Regions from separate parts of the Homo sapiens genome. Here region 2 is linked to region 1. A link means that fine-mapping ties the variant in region 1 to the expression of a gene that starts in the linked region. Tissue or cell type: fibroblasts. Region 1 holds a variant in brackets; the other region holds the start of a gene. All regions are shown on one strand. Distances are between the middles of the regions.

Evidence for each region. PIP is the estimated chance that this variant, and not a neighbour inherited with it, causes the effect.
Region 2: it holds the start of TGFBR1, and the variant in region 1 is fine-mapped to the expression of TGFBR1 in fibroblasts (GTEx, PIP 0.93).

Annotation. Positions count from the first base shown.
Region 1 is chr9:98,958,559-98,966,738 of GRCh38, reverse strand. All of the region lies in intron 2 of COL15A1 (collagen type XV alpha 1 chain), which reads right to left. Among named protein-coding and RNA genes, the nearest start is that of COL15A1-AS1, 18 kb to the right of the region's middle. RefSeq lists enhancers at 3,399-3,983, 4,484-4,984. The variant G/C (reference allele first, on the strand shown) is at 4,335.
Region 2 is chr9:99,101,574-99,109,753 of GRCh38, reverse strand. TGFBR1 (transforming growth factor beta receptor 1) reads right to left here and starts at 4,641. Exons shown (of 9, transcript NM_004612.4): 1 at 4,452-4,641. The coding sequence starts at 4,548. RefSeq lists silencers at 3,914-4,423, 4,514-5,113.

The DNA.
Region 1 (8,180 bases):
CTCCCTAAGCAGGAGGCTTTGAATGAGCAGCCTTCTGCAAAATGGCTGCCCTCGGCTCTCCTTCACTGAGATGAGAGTGACTCTCTTAAACACACTGGCTTCTCAGACTTCAGACTCATTTCCAGCTGCCTCCATCTTCCTCCCCTCTGCAACATGGTCTGGGTGGAGAATGTGAACAACCGGGCTTCCCCTTCTCTGTTATATACTGTTAGGGTCCTTGAGGTTTGGCTAGAGGCCTCAGGGAGGCTGCTCATGGCCTATCCGGGTGTCAGAGCATGAGCTGGGGCCATGGGGCAAGGTAGGATGGGACAGGCCAGCCCTGGAGATCCCAGGAGCAGAACGGTAAGATCCCTGGTCCTCCTGTGTGGAGAAGGCCCCCCATCTCCTCCATGGGGGTGCAGCATTGGGTTGGGAGGAGCACTGAATGATAGGAGGAGCTTGAAAGAGTATTTTAATTCTGAGCTTTCTAAGTCTTTCTCTAAGTGAAACATGGCCTGGGGTGTTTCTTGATTTCTTTGGCATGATTGATACTATGGGGTCAATGAAATCTCTTGAGTTGTTATCCACAGGCCTCAAGGCAGCCATAATTTACATCTCCCTAGGGGAGAATGGTCCTCTCTCTTCCCTCCCAGAAGAAGAGTCAGGAGGGGACCTTACTATCATTCATTCTATCCTGGGCCCAGTCTGGCCTTGTCCACAACCAGCATCCACTTTCCAACCCTGTCTGGACTTGGCGCTGGGCTGGGCTCTGGGGGAACAAGAGGACAAGGAATTGGGTCCCCTGGAAAAAAAGGACCAGACACCAACATGGGGCCCAGATACAGGTGACCTGGGCTGGGCTCTGGGGGATCAAGAGGACAAGGAATTGGGTCCCCTGGAAAAAAAGGACCAGACACCAACACGGGGCCCAGATACAGGTGACCTGAGCTTGGAGCCATAAGCAAAGGACAGGAAAGTCCTGTAGGGGCTTAAAGAGGGAGCACTCCCCGCCCACTGGGGGACACTGGGAAGGGGACCTGAAGGAAGGGCCAGTGGAGATAGGCCTGAGATGCTTCACACAGGTGAACACAGTGGAGTGAGCAGAGCATGAGCAAACCCACACAATTAGGAAAACAAGGGCCAAGTGAGTGATTCCAAGGATGGGAGAAATGGGACCCCGAGATAGCCTCCAGCATTGGAGCAAAAAGGAGAGAATTATGGATCCAGAGAGATTCAGACTTAGAAATGTTAATCTCACAACAGGCCAACCCTGAGCTCAGCACTTAGGTGCATTAGCTCACCTAACCTCAAGGCAGTCTGATGGGGTGGGGACTGTGGCTATGCCATTTTCAGATGAGATGACTGAAGCTGAAGGAGCTTAAGACTGCAGGCCTTAACTGCAGTGGTTGGGACTTCCCAGCTCTTGCTACTCTCAATTCTTTTTCCTTTAGGAGACTGGAGTCAGAGAGCCTCAAATGTCCAGCCAAGGAGACTAAAATTTATGCAACAGGCAACCGGGTGCCTTGGCAGATTCCTGAGGAAGGTTCTAGCTGACCATTTTAGGAGGAATCCTCATTTCACCCCAAGCTGCTGCCCTAGGCAGTTGGGTCCCCTTTCTTTTTCTTGCCAAGGAGAGGGTGGAATTGGGTGATCTGGAATGTGGTGCGAAGGCGATAGTTTGGCAACAGCAGGAGACATACTTTCTTGCAGCCTCTCAGCACTTGGCATGTTATGCCCTGGGCAAAATCAAGCTGCCCTGGGAACAGCCCGGGGCGTCCCAACAGATGAGCTTGTGTGAATTCAGCCAGGGCAGACAAGCAGCGCAGTCAGAACGAGCTCATAGCTTCAGTGGGCACCGTGAAATCTCGCCTACATTGGCCAAGGCGCTGATGAAGAATCAGGGTAACCTTCAGAGCTGGGAAGAACCTCAGAAAATACCCAGTCCAATGTCCCCAAGATGAGAAAACTGATGCCCAGACTGATGGTGTGACCAGCTCGAGCAGCTTTGGCATGTTGTATTCCCCCCACTGTAAGATCCAGGCCACTCTCTCCCATGACCCGGAAGATGGCATGGGAAAGGGCCTCATACAGAGCTTGGTACACACTAGGTACCCAATGTAGAAAGGAATGCATTTGAATCTGTGGTGGGGACCTGTGGTTCACATGCAATGACGTTGATGCTGCTGAGTAGGGGAAAAGAAATAACCAGAGAAATTTGTCCGAGGGTTGTTGTCAAACACACTGTGTCTTTCTACAGACTTTCCTGCTCAGTTGTGCAAAGAGACACACTCTCTGTGGGATGCTGGAGCCCCATTTGGCTCCAAAATGGGATTTGAGTTTAAGGGAACAGCCAGAACAGATGGTGACCCTGAAGTCATATTTTGAAACAGGCTGACTCTTGTTTAATTTAGATGAAAGTACAGCTTGACAGTCTCCAAATGTTTGCTGGAGGAACAGCCTGTGGACCACCAGAATAATGGGAGAGGGAATCAGACCTTCCAAGATGAAAACCCAGTGGACACCTCCTAACTAGAGACCAAGAATGGGGGGGTGGGAGGGGAGGTGACCTCGGGGGAACCCCAGGAGGACCAGCCTCCCCCAGAATGGTGCAGGGCAAAGGACGTGGAATTTGATGCCAGAGAAACTTGTATGTAAGTCCCTGCTCAGCCACGTACTAGCCAGGTGATCTTGGGCATGTTCTTTAACTTCTCTGAGCCTTAGCTTCCTTATCTGGAAATAGAGGTGGCAATACTTAGCTCTCAGGGTGGTGGCACAGGGCAAATGTCAGGTGCTAAGCATATTCTGTCCATTTTGTTCATTCATTCATTTGTTCATTCACAAATGACTATCAAGCACACACCGTCACATGCCTGGCACTGCAAGTCATGGAGATTTGGGGTGAACGGGATGGGCATGACCTTAACTTTGTGGGATGGATGGCTCAGCACTGGGTTCCCCATCCCTGGCTCTGAGCACTCCTGGGCATTACCTGCTGAGTAGCTCATATAGCCTCAGGAGGTAGGACTCCTATACCCATCACCCACCACCACCATCCAGATGAGGAAACCCACACTCTTTCTGAGCAATGTGCCCAAGTCACATAATTAAAAAAAGTGTTGAACCAGGATTTAAAGTTCATGTGATGTTTCCAAAGCTCAGCTCTAACCACACACTACTGTCAAGCACATCCCTGAGAATGGTACGGATGTGATCAAGCAGCACTGGGGAATTTCAAAATGGAGTGATGCCACCCACCTGGATATCAGAAGACGTAGTTCCAGACCCAGTTCTAGAACAAGGAACCTGTTGGGAGTCACATCGCTAAAATGTGTGTGACTCCCAGGAAGTTCCTTGCTCTCTTTGAACCTCCATCTTCCCGTCTGCAATTTGGGGGAGCTGGAATAGTTGATCCCCAAAGTCCAGCATTTTCTGAGGCCTCAGGTTCCCAGTGGGTTCTGATGGGAGTAAGGTGTTTGGGGGGACTTGCAGGCATTGTGAGAAGTGAGGCCCAGTGGGTCCTAGCTACCTAAGGTGCATAAATGGTGAACTGTGCCTTCTCACACAAGGAGCCTACGCTATGCAGCATGGACCACGCTGGGTGGAAGGCTGCCTCCAAAGAGTGATTCTTGGAAATCTTGAACCTGAGCAAGGCTGACCAGCCTCCCACATGCATATGCATGACAGCATTCTTCACATTCCACCCAAGATCTCCATGCTAAAGCAGCTCCACACGCTATTCCTGGAAAGGTAAACGTGGATGGAGAAATGAAAGCTTCTCATGGCCATCAACACACACATTTCTATTCATTCCAGAAGCATTTATTGAGCACCTGCTGTACAGCAGGCACTATTCTAAGTGCCGGAGATCCAGCAGTGATAGACAAGTTCCTTCCCTCTTGGAGCTGACAGTTCTAATCCAAAGCTTTGGAGGGCAGTGACCATCTCCATCTTGTCAATATCAAAGCATTAATAGCCCCCTCAACACACAGGTGTTAGGTATCTGTAGACAGAAAATGTCCATGTATCCTTTGCAATAATTCTAAATATCCCCCACAAGTTGGGGACCTCAAATCTGTATATAACATCATCTCTGCTAAAGCACTCTGTCATCAGATAAACCTGAGGGCCTGAGTCTAGCCAAAGAGCCCCCCAGGACCTTGAAAATTTAATTCTCTTGCTTTATCTTTAAAAGCACTTAAGTTTTGAATTCCACTCCAAACATGTGTGTGTGTTTGTTTTAATAATATAAAAATGTTCCAAATTATTCCCCAGTTGTTACTGGTCTCCTCACCACAAATTACCAACCACTGAGTAAAATCCTCCAGGAAATAAACAATGTGGCTCTTCGCATGCTA[G/C]TGTCACACAGCCAAGGACTGTGAGCACACCCATTTGAGAAGCAGGTCTCCAAAGGAATGGCTTGGACAGGAGAGGCGTAATGCATCCCCCACGTCTCACGGGTACAACCATGTCTAAAGGAATTGCTCCCCTGAGTGAAAGCATCTAAAAACCTCCCACCCGAGTTATTCCTCCCCAAACCGCATTTCTGTTCCCTGGCAAGAGAATTCTTCCTATGTTTACGGATGCACATTCTCAATACAGAGATCCAGAGAGAGATAAAAAATAAAAAGAGATCATGTCAGACCTGGATGACCTTAGCGCTGGTCCGACCTCTTCGTTGTATAGACGGGAGGAAGCTTTCCAAAGCCAGGACTGACTGGAGTCTAACCGCAGACAGCAATTGTTAGAAACCTTCCTCACTTGCCTCCACCACCTCTTTGCCAGGCAGCTGTCGTGGCCTGGGAGGCCCTGAGAGGCCAAGGTGGACCAGGGGCTCTTTGTGCTGGCTCCGGGCTTTCTTCTGACTCTGCCTTCCTGACATTTTACTGCAAGTCTCTTAAATTCTCTTCTCTTACGCTATGTAAAGGTAGAGACCCTTTGCCCCCGCCCTGAAGCAATTCACTGTCTGATAAGCAGAGGCAGGAGCAAGGCAGGTAGTAGAATCCAGGGCTTGACTGCACTCTACCTAGACCAAAGGCCTTTACCCCGGGTGGCCCTGGGCGGTAGTGCTGCAGGACTGACCGAGGGTGGGAAGCCAAGATGCTCCCCCAGGGCCAGGCTAGGAAAAACGGCTCCTGGGCGAAGGCCCTGCTTTCATCCCAGAAACTTCACCCTGCCTTCCTCCCTCAACGTGTTCGAGCCACATTCAGGCTGTCTCTTCCATCCTCTCCTCATTCTGTTTCTCTGTATCTGGAACATTCCACTCCTCTTCCAGCCCATCATCCCCACCTCCTTTCCTGGCTAAATCTGTTCACCCCTCAGATCTCATCTTAAATCCCATTCCTTGGGGAGACTCTCCTGACACCCTGGTACAGATGAGAGTGTCCTGGCATGTGCTTTCATAGCTCTCATTGCACTTTCTAACATTTTCTACCATTTATAAACATAAAGAGTCTTTTTGTACAATCCTTTATTTAGCATCAATGTCCCCCATTAGACTATAGGATCCTAGAGGGCAAGCAGCAAGCCTATCTTGCTTTTCATTTTCTGCCCAGGATATCACACATTGCTTGTATTCAGAGAACAGTCAATACATATTACATAAAAGTGGGTAAACAAATGGATGAATGAGAAAGCCCCCAGGTTACAACAGGCAGAATGGCCATTTCTACCAAGGGCAGAAACTCTGGAATGAATTCCATCCCACCCACTTTGCAAAGTCCTTGTTTAGCTATGTTTCACTTTCCCCACATCAGATTATGATTGTTTATCTCCCTCCACTGGAAGGTCAATGATTCTAAACTCCAAACACAAATGACTTGGTCCTGGCCCTTCCCATCCTCAGCAAGATGGACTTACAAATGAGTTCTCACCTCTGATGGAATAAACCCAATACAAGCAATGCTGAGAGAGGACACAGGACAGCTTAGGCACAACATCAGCTAGCACTGAGATGGAACCTTGTTACTGGCCACTCCCCTTCATTAAGGGCTTTCCATGTGCCAGGCACTGTGCTAAGAGCTTGGGGCGTTATTTCGTTTATAGTTTCCTCACTCTACAGATGAGGAAACTGAGGTTTCAAAAGGATTAGTACATTGTCCAAGGTCACCAACTGATACATGCAGAGCCTGGAACCAGGCCAGCTCTATCTGACTGCCCAGATTCAGCACTTGCCCTCCAAGCTACACAGCACTGCAGCTTACACTTGAGTGCCACACACATCACCTGGGGGCCTGGTTAAGGTACAGATCTGATGCCGTGGGTCTAGATCTGATGCTGTGGGTCTAGATCTGATGTTGTGGGTCTGAGGCAGGATTTGGGATCCTGTATTTCTTTTCTTTTTTTTCTTTTTTATTTTTGAAACAGAGTCTCCCTTTGTCACCCAGGCTGGGGTTCGTTCAGTGGTGTGACCTCGGCTCACTGCAGCCTTAACCTCTTGGGCTCAAGCGATCCTCCCACCTCAGGCTCCCAAGTAGCTGGGAGTACAGGCACATGTCACCACATCATGCTAATTTTTTATAGAGATGTTGTCTCACTATGGTGCCCAGGCTGGTCTCAAACTCCTGGCCTCAAGCAATCACCCTACCTTGGCCTCCCAAAGTGCTGGGATTACAGGTGTGAGCCCCTGTGCCCGGCCTTGGGACTCTGTTTCTAATGAGCTCCTGGATGATGCCCATGCTGCTGGTCCAGGGACCACAGTTTAAGCAACAAGTCTATCAAGGTGAAAATGCAGAGGATTTCCATAGGGCAGGCTGAGGAACAGCGCAAGCAAAGGCTTGGAGAAGGGAACATGCATGGTCAATTCAGAGACCAGCAAGCAGTTCAGGGTGGTAGAGCCAGGGTACGGGGAGGGATGTGAGAGGAGAAGAGGCCTTGAACTGCAACCCAAGGAGTGTGGAATGCATTGTGCGTCACAGAAAACATGGAAGCGTTTTGACAGGGGATGTGACATGATGGGACCTGTGTTTTAGACAAGCTACTCTGACTCACAGTGAGAAGCCATGCTAGAGGACAGAGAGATGGGAGATCCTGCTGGCCAGGGAGCTGCTGTAGCAACCCAGCAGAAAGAGGTAACACAGGCCTGAAGCCAGGCAGGGCAAGAAGATAGAAGGGAGAGGTTGCATGCAACAGACATTGCAGGGGCAGAATTAATTTTTTTTTTTTTATGGCAAGATCTCACTCTGTTGCCCAGGCTGAAGTACACTGGCACAATCACAGCTCACTGCAGCCTCATTTCTAAGAGTGGTTCCATTTGAGACTGTGTTGGAATGGTATGCAGCTCAGTTTATGTCTGTGCTCAGCTCCTGTCATCTCTGCACTGTTGCTTTAGTTCATGGAATGGCTGAGAAATTTTTCATAACTTGGAAAGAGTACTGTAGCTTTGTTTTAAAGAAACTAATTCTGGCCAGGCATGGTGGTCTCCTGGGCTCAAGTGATCGATCCTCCTGCCTCAGCCTCCTGAGTAGCTGGGACTACAGGTTCATGCCACCACACCCAGATCATTTTAGTTTTTAGTTTTTTTTTTTTTTTTTTTTGTAGAGACAGGGTCTCACTATGTTGCCTAGGCTGGTCTCGAACTCCTGGCTTCAAGAGATCCTCCCACCTCGGCTTCCTGAAGTGCTGAGATTACAGATGTGAGCCACCATGCCTGGCCAGAATTAATTTCTTTAAAACAAAGCTACAATACTCTTTCCAGGTATGAAAAATTTCTCAGCCATTCCATGAACTAAAGCAACAGTGCAGAGATGACAGGAGCTGAGCACAGACATAAACTGAGCTGCATACCATTCCAACACAGTCTCAAATGGAACCACTCTTAGAAATGGGGCGCATCAGCCATGGCTTCCAATCCAGCCACCCTATCTCCGTGATGAGCCAGCCTTTTCCTCACTTTGCGGAATACTCACTTTGAGTTTCTAAGTCCAGAGAATGGAGGGGACTTGGCAAAGCTCCTGTGACCAGGCCTAGAACCAAGGAATCCGAGCCACTAAACCAGTGCGGGGCATCTTAGAGAACTTCCCTCCGCCGAGAAAATGAAGACATTCAGTTGCAATTTGATATCAGCCCACACTTGCAAATATTAAACAAATAAAGCCACTTCATTCCTTAATGAAAGCTCATATACTAAAAGGGGAGGGGAAGACCCTGAAATGGAGCCATCTACTGCAGACAGTTAGACCTGAAATAAAATTAGAAAATATGTC
Region 2 (8,180 bases), 140 kb before region 1:
GATATCAAACCACAGTCCATCTGTTCAGAGAACTCTGTGTTACGTAAGCCATGACCAAGGAAGAACTGCAAAAGGCAAGAGGTGTGTCGACATTTGCAAGGGGCTCTGTGGTTTGAAGAGACACGTTCTCACATCAGAAGGGCCATCCATAGGATAATGGCATTTTCAAAATTCCATTTATTACACATGAACATATTTGGTGCAATAAAATGACACTACAAGAATGGTGTTGAGTCCCTGTAACTGCTCAACTAAGGCCTAGAACCTTTTGACAGGGGTCTTCCCTACATGAGCGGCCCTCCTCACAGGAACAAGATTTATCTTCCTCTTGATTATTTTTATGTCAATTCCTCTCTTAATTTCAACAACAAAGCGGATCATCTAATATTCTAAACCAAAGCCTTCTAACTACACCCCAATTCAATTAACTGTACTTACTCAAGACCATCTTCCAAACTACTATAGGCCTACTTTTCTCAATCAATAAGTATATACCAGGTCCTTTTATCAGCAATTAAAAAAAAATTGACCTTTTCCTTGAGAACTTTAAGGCTTTAATCATTCCCCCTCCCTTCCACCTTTAGAATTCACTTTTCATAAATTCTGTGAAGTTCAAGGCCTACTTCACTTAAGGAAGTCACTCATCCCTTCGTGGATGCCAACCACCTATCCCAACCCTGTCCCACTCCCACCTCCAAGTCCTTCACATTTTAAAGCACCATATAGGGCACAAGATATGGAATCAGAAAATCAAAGTTCCTGTCTCTGTTCTGCCCCTGTGCCACCCTAAGAAATTCACCTGAGTCGTTTTTTCATCTGTAAATTGAAGTGATAATATACTTAGGACTTCCACCATTTGAATGCCTAGTCCTACTGGGCATCCCATAATGTTATTCTCCCTCACTCATTCCACTTTGATTACTTTTATGTTTTGTTTCCAGCTATGTACTATAGCTTTTAGGATTGGGGAAAAAATGATAGAGGTTAATACATCCAAATTCCACAGTACAGAATAAGGAACCTAACTCTGAAGAGTAACTTGCCAGTCAGTCAGTAAAAGCCTTGTTTCCTCCCTTGGAGTAGGCCCCAGGACAGTTGGGGACACAACTTCAAAAGAACTTTCACACTCATCAAATCCCCCTCTGAATTCTACCCACCCTTCAAAGTCAGTGTAAGTCCTAAAGTGTCCAAGAAGCCTCCCCCAATCATTCCAGCTTACACTAATCATTTCCCTTTTTGAATACTAATGCCTCCCTATAGAAATGATATTAAAAATATTTAACAACTGGCACTACAAGGGTACCAACCAATCAGAAAGGATGTTTAACCAAAACACACATGGCCCAGTGGGAACTGCTTATTGAACATCAGTCCTGCTCTTTAGCAACAACACAGAATAGCAACCTCAAACTCAAATACCACTTTCTCATGTGATCTTCACAATCTCATGAATTAGGCAAAAGTAGGTATTGCCCCATTTTCTGCATAACTGCTGGTGAAGGTAGGACAAATAACCAATTGCTTTCAACACGCCATACAACTTTTCCTGATTATTTATACGGAATTACAAGTTAATATTGCATAAACTGGACTTACATAAAACAGTATAAATATTAAAGGAATGCTCAAATAGAAATCAACAAGCATTTATGTGGAATAGAATATAAAACACAGTGCTAAGTTCTGAGGCCACAAAAGAAAGAAATGGCATGAATCTTGTCCTCTGGGTACCTATAACGCATTCAAGTAGAGTTAAGTAGCAGCACAGGCAGTAGAAATGGACAACACAAACTGTTAAGTGTTGCAGAGTTCTGGAAGACAAAGAATTCAAGAACTAAACCAGCACAGGAAGTCAGGGCTGAGAACTTCTCGCACTCCCAAAAAAAGGGGCAAAACTAAATGTGTAGTGAAAAGGCTGAACAGTCAGGAGTCAGTGAGAAAGAGAAATTGCTCGAAGGTCTGCAGTAATGAGAAATGAGATCCCTGGTAGGATACTCAGAGATGGCCCCAATCATAAGCTGCTAAGTGTTGTTCTAAGTGCTGAATACAAATGGGAAATCTTATAAACCTTCACGGGGAAGGCTGAGGAAGATTAGTTTGGCAGTAGCCATAGAAAAGCCTAGATGAGAAAAACATGGGAAAGCAACTAGATTTGGAGGATAACAGGCAGGATTAAGCTGAAGGCTGCATACCAAGAAAGGAGGAGACATTCAAGAGGCATTCATAGAAGAGTTGGATTGGGGGCACGTTTTCAAAGAAAAAAAGTTATGAAATGGCAGAAAGGAAGCAAATAGCATTCTCAGATGGGATATACATATAGACATAGTGGTACTAAACTGTGCACTAGGGATAAGGAATCAATTTCCCTAGAGAAACCTATGTTGGAGACAGAAGTTGGGCAGAGAACATTAAAACATACTCAGAACATAAAAAGGTGCAAGTCTTTAAAAGGGAAGCCAAGTTACAGAGGAAATAAAAAGCATTTGACCTTTTTCAGAATGTTTTTTAAGGGTGGACTGAGGCATCATCATAACCAACAGGGGAGGCAGACAAGCTGAGGCAGTCTGGGCTTAGAGTAATAAGCACCTGGACAGCTTTGTATTTTGTGCATACCATGGAGACTGTAAACTCCTCCAGGACATGGACTGAGCAATGTTCTGTGTCTTCAACTAAGTCCACTACTGTTACTTGAATACATGAACGCTTCTTGTGCTACTTCTGGTGGAAAAGAGTGCACTGTGTTATTCAAGTTAATAGCGGTGTGGAAATGTTACCTGTGTTTCATGCCTAACTATACTGATTCTCCCAAATGTCCACACAGTTATCCTGCCTTCCTCCCTAGGCCAATGTCAAAAATCCATTGTTTCCTCTAATGCAGGCCCACGTGAAGGGACTCAACAATGTGCTAAGAGTCGGAATGAAGCCTATCTGATACTCAAATCATGAGGACAGAATCCAAAGTGGATAATAAAGACCAATTGCTCATCAGACGACTGAAGAAGAAAAATGGGCTACGCCAGATAGTATGATGTATACATATTTATATATATATATGACATACAGGTTTGGGAAACTGAGATCTGAGTGAAAATCCTAGCTTTAGCACTTAAGTTATTGGGTACTTAACGTGTCTGTACCCCACTTTGCACATCTGTAAAGTGGGGCAAATGCCACTACTCCTGGGAGTTTACTTGTGGTGATTAAATAATGTAATTATACAATAGTGTATGCATTTACATCGTAGTAATGCACAATACATAGACGGTAGCTATTAGGACTGATTATAATCGTCACCGTCAGTCTTGATTTTTTAAAAAAATTTCAACATCTTTTGTCCAGTTTCAGAAACAGAAATGTACTTTCACTGCATTTTAGTTGCTAACACTGAGGCTGTGTATTTTAGCTTCTAGTGTCTCAGTTCAGCTGCTAACGAAGTTTTTCACTCATCCCTTTGTGGATACCAACCACCTACCCCAACCTGATTTACTATTTTGAAAAATCCAGCCAACAGTCTTCCTTGAAAACCAGCTATACAGATGTCTGAATCAAACTATTAACTGTCACTCAAGAAAAGGAACAACGTGAGTGATGTTCCTTCGAGGAAATAAAAAGCGTTTAATCAATTCACAGTCGTTCCCAAAATTTCCAAAACCCGCAGAATGAGCAAACGTTCAAGTTTCCACTATGAAAACAATCCGTAGCCGTCTGGTTACTGGACTCACTTCAACACTCCCCAGACGCACGAAAGAAGAAACATTCCGCGCATCTCCGCGCTTCCTTCTTCTCACACAAAGCCCCCCTGGCTGGAGGAGCAGCCCCTTCCAGCAGGGTCGGCTCGGGTCGAGCCGGGCGGGAGTCAGGGCGGCCTGCGGACCCAGGGGTCTCACCACACGTCGCCCCCGACTCCCACTGGACGAAGCCCTAGAGGCTCGGAGCTCACACCCCGCCCGGGAGCCGCCTTCCACCCCAACCTCAAACCCCGCCCCGGGTTCGGCAGCCTCTGGCACGGACCCTCTTGGGGCGGGGGTCCCCAGAACAAGGTCACGCCGTGCCCAGGGGGCGGCGGCGGGCAGCCACGGCTCTGCCAGTCCCCGCCGGCCTCGCACTCTCCGCCCCTGGCCCTCGCCCACTCACACCCCAGAGGGCAGCCCCGGACCTCGGACGACTCCGCCCGACTCCACCTCCCCGGGGAGTCCCGAGCGGGGCGGCCTCGGGCAGCCGGACACGTCCGCCCGCGCCCGGACACACGCCCCTGCCCCGCCTCCGCTCCCCGCTTGCGGTTCGCCCGGCAGCCGCCGAGCCGCGCGGCGCCACGAGAGCCCGGCCCGGGCCCCGGCGCCGCCACCTGCGCCCCCGGCCCCGCGCCATGTTTGAGAAAGAGCAGGAGCGAGCCAGAGGCCGGGTCCGGCCCGCGCGCCCCGCAGTCGCCCGCCCGCCGCGCCGCCGCTCACCCGTCGCCCCCGGGAGCAGCGCCGCCGCCGCCGCCGCCGCCGCCGCCAGCACGAGGAGGAGCAGCCGGGGACGCGGAGCAGCGACCGCCGCCTCCATGGTCCCGCCGCCACCGCCTGTGGCCCGGCCCGGCCCGGCCGCGCCGCTGCCTCACCCCAGCAAACCTCGCCTCGCCCCACCTCCCTAGCCGCCGCGGCGGCCTCGCTCCGGCCCTTTGTAACTGCTCGGAGGACGCGCGTCCATTGGCTGCCGGGCTCCCGCCGGCCCCGCCTCCCCGCCGCCGCGAGCTGCCAAGCGGGACCCAGCCGGGAGCCCCGCCTGCGGGCCCGCCAGGCAGCCAATCCGCAGCCGCGAGCGCCGGTTTCTGGCCACGCCCCACGCTCCCCGGGGGCTGGGCCGCCAGACCCCAGCCCCGGCCCGATCGGCTCCCGGCTCCGAGAGGCCGCGTGGGGGCGGGGTCTGCCAGCCCCAGCACCGCTCAGCCGCTAGCCCCGGAGGGCCGGGTAGAGCGATGGGTGTGTCTGTGTGAGTCTCTTTCGGAAAAAGGCTGTGGCCGTTCGACGCTCTTTTCTTCTAACCTCCTCTAGGCGCGGAAGATCTGGTACTGCCTCAGCCCCACCCTGACCCCATTCACAGCTCCGCATTGGCAATCCCAGCACATGCCACCCAGATCCGCTGCAGCGCCAGGCCCCTGCATCCACTTCAACTTCCCCTCTCCAAGTCCACGCATCAACTTCAGCATTCCCCCGAAGATCCCTCCTCAGTGCCCTTCACATGCGACTCACTCTCCTATTTCCTCCTGCTCCCAGCGGTCACCCCAAACCCAGCTCCCCCACCCAGTTCCAAACCCAGAAAGTCCTCAGATCCCAGCGTCAGACCCAGATCCTGAGCCCAAACACACCCCCAAATAGCCTCCCGCCTCCCTCCAGCACAGATCCAGGATGGGGATCCAAGCCGCACTCCTCTCAAACCCCTTCCCGATCCAGGTTGGAAAGGGAGGATCCCCACCCCAACCCCTCAAAGGAGGGGTTCCCCCTTCTTAGCACCCAGCTCCCGCGGGGCGGAGGGGGAGCAGTCATCATTACTTTGAGCTGTGTCTGACACTGCTGTATAATAATCCTGAGGTGTCACTAAAAACCCAAATAAACTCTACGTTTTCATTCTGAATTCCTAATTTACTGCGAGACGCTCCACCCACCTTCCCTCTGCGACGCCAAAATGAGCTCCAGATTTGTAATTCTTCCTGTCAGACTAGTCCTTTCTTCAGACACAAACACAGCCAAGGAGGCTGTTACGTAGAACAGAGAATATTTTTCCGCAGAACCTTTTAAGGAGGAAATTTTATTTTCTGTGTCATTTGAGCTTAGAATTAAATAAACCTTGATAGCAGGAATCAGAATGGTTCTGATTAATGCCAATTTGTGCACTACTTTAGAGTCACTGGGTGAGCATTTTCCCCACCTGTGAAGGCTTCCTTCCGGGAGATGAAAAGGGAAAAGGCGTGGATATTGGAGCTGGGATCTGAGACCCGCGCGCTTTCTCCCTCCTGTCTAGGACACTTACTTAAGCAAGTCAGCTAACCTTTCTGAACCTCCAACAGGCTCAGAGGCCTGCAACTTGCTCTACACCGCAGCTCCAGCAGCCTCAGCAGCAAACTCCCCTCTTGCTCAGGCTGAGGGATTCCAGAGAGATGGCTTCTGGCAGGCTCCAGTCCCAATTTGCCCTCTCAGTTCCAGTTTCTTCAATGGAGATTTGGTGGACTTTGTGCCACCTGAGGTCCCTAGACTGCCTTTTTGCTGCTCTATTTGCAATGTCTTTCATAAGATAAGAGCTAATGAGATTTTTATTGTATGAATGAATGAATGATCTCAGAAAGTGACTGTTTTTCTCTGGCCATTAGCTTCTTCATCTCTAAAATGTAAATAATAATAGTACCTACCCCGTTTATAAATAAAAGGGATTGAATCACTTGTCTTGGGCCCCTTAAATGACGTAATGTGTCTGGTACAGTGTCTGGAACATAGTAAATATTTAGCTAATGCCATTTCTTTGCCCATCCCCTTCCAGCTCTGTATGATTCTAATCAGCATGTATGTTCATGTCAGTCTGTGCCTTTGACGTACGGAGCCTAGATTAATCAGTGTTAATCACACCTCCAGTTCCTTAACATTTTCCGTGGAATTCAGTGGATACAATAGGAAGGAAAAACAGACTATTTTTAAGTTGTATCTTCCTGATACTAGGAGGAAATTTCCATGAGCCACAGATCCATAAATAAACTACACTAGAATGGAACACTAAATTATTAGTTTAAAATCATGGTTCCCAAATTGTAAAGTCTCTCCAATTACCTGGAGAGCTTGTAATAATACAGATTCCTGGGTCTCCCTCGGCCCTAGCAAGTCTGCTTCAGTTCATGTGGAGAAGGTTCAGGAATCTGCATTTGTAATAGACATCCCAGGTGATTCTGCTGCAAGTGGCACTGGGCCCGCTTCAAAAGACACTGCTTTACTTAAAATTCAGTAAATAAAAATGCATGACCTTATTTGCCTTTTGAGAAAGGTTGGATGGGCAGTAGAAAGAAGCCTCTGGCTTTGGAGGCCTACAGACCCGACTTGAAATTCTGGCTGCCACTCACTAGATGTGGGTCTGGGAACACTATTTGACTGCTTTGAGATTTAGCATCCCCCAGGGTAAAGGGAGATACTGTTGTGAGGTCTAAATGAGCTATTGCACATTAAGGAATCTGTCATAAATGTTAATTCCCTTCAGTCTTTACAGACTTACTTGTTGTTTAAAATGCTTACATGTTATTTACTCCAATGTCTTAATTTAAAGGGAAGGAAACTGAGGATCAGTTCCCCAGCAAGTCAGCTGCAGAGCTAGGACTAGGAGTCTCACTCCAGTGCCTTGTACCCTGTGTAATGTTGTCTCTTAATCTTTATGCCAAGGACATTGTTTGCTTTTCCTTTTGGATTAGTTCCTTAAGTAAGAGGATTTCTCCAAAATAGAGAGCAGAGACTGCTTGTCATCTAAACTACACCCATTCTTACATTTGCTTTATAATGGAGTCCTGTTTTTCTTTGGGAAAGCAGATCACCTAGAAAAAATATATATGTCAATTTCCCAGGCTCCTTGTACCTAGGTATGGCCATGTGACAAGAGTTCTGGCCAGTGACATGTAAACAGAAATCTACTTTCCACAAGGCGGAGCCTGTACAAAAGATACTTCCTAGTTAAAAAAAGAAGAGACTCATCATATTCTCTCTTTCTCCCTGGAACACAGTTGCAATGCCTGGAGGTACAGCAGCCATTTTGTAAACATAAAGGCGATAGCCAAAACTGAGGACTGTAGAGAGAAAAAATGGAGAGAGTCTAGGTTTTTGATAAATTTCCTGAACAGTTGCACCAGCTCTATAATGCCTATTTCTTATTATATGAGAAAAATTAATCTATTTTTTATTCACTTTGAATAACTGCACCAGCTCCATAATGCTTATTTCTTATTATATGAGAAAAATTAATCTATTTTTATTCACCTTAGAATGCTTCTATTCTGCTCATTTGTCCATCCTATTTATTGTTGCATATTTTATTTCTATCTTATTTTCTAACCTACAAGACATTATTGACTTCTGCCATTATTAGCTATTGCTAATTCTTGGTGCTCCTAACTGAAAAACAAACCACCTCAAAATTTAGTGGCTTAGAATAATAACCATATATCATCT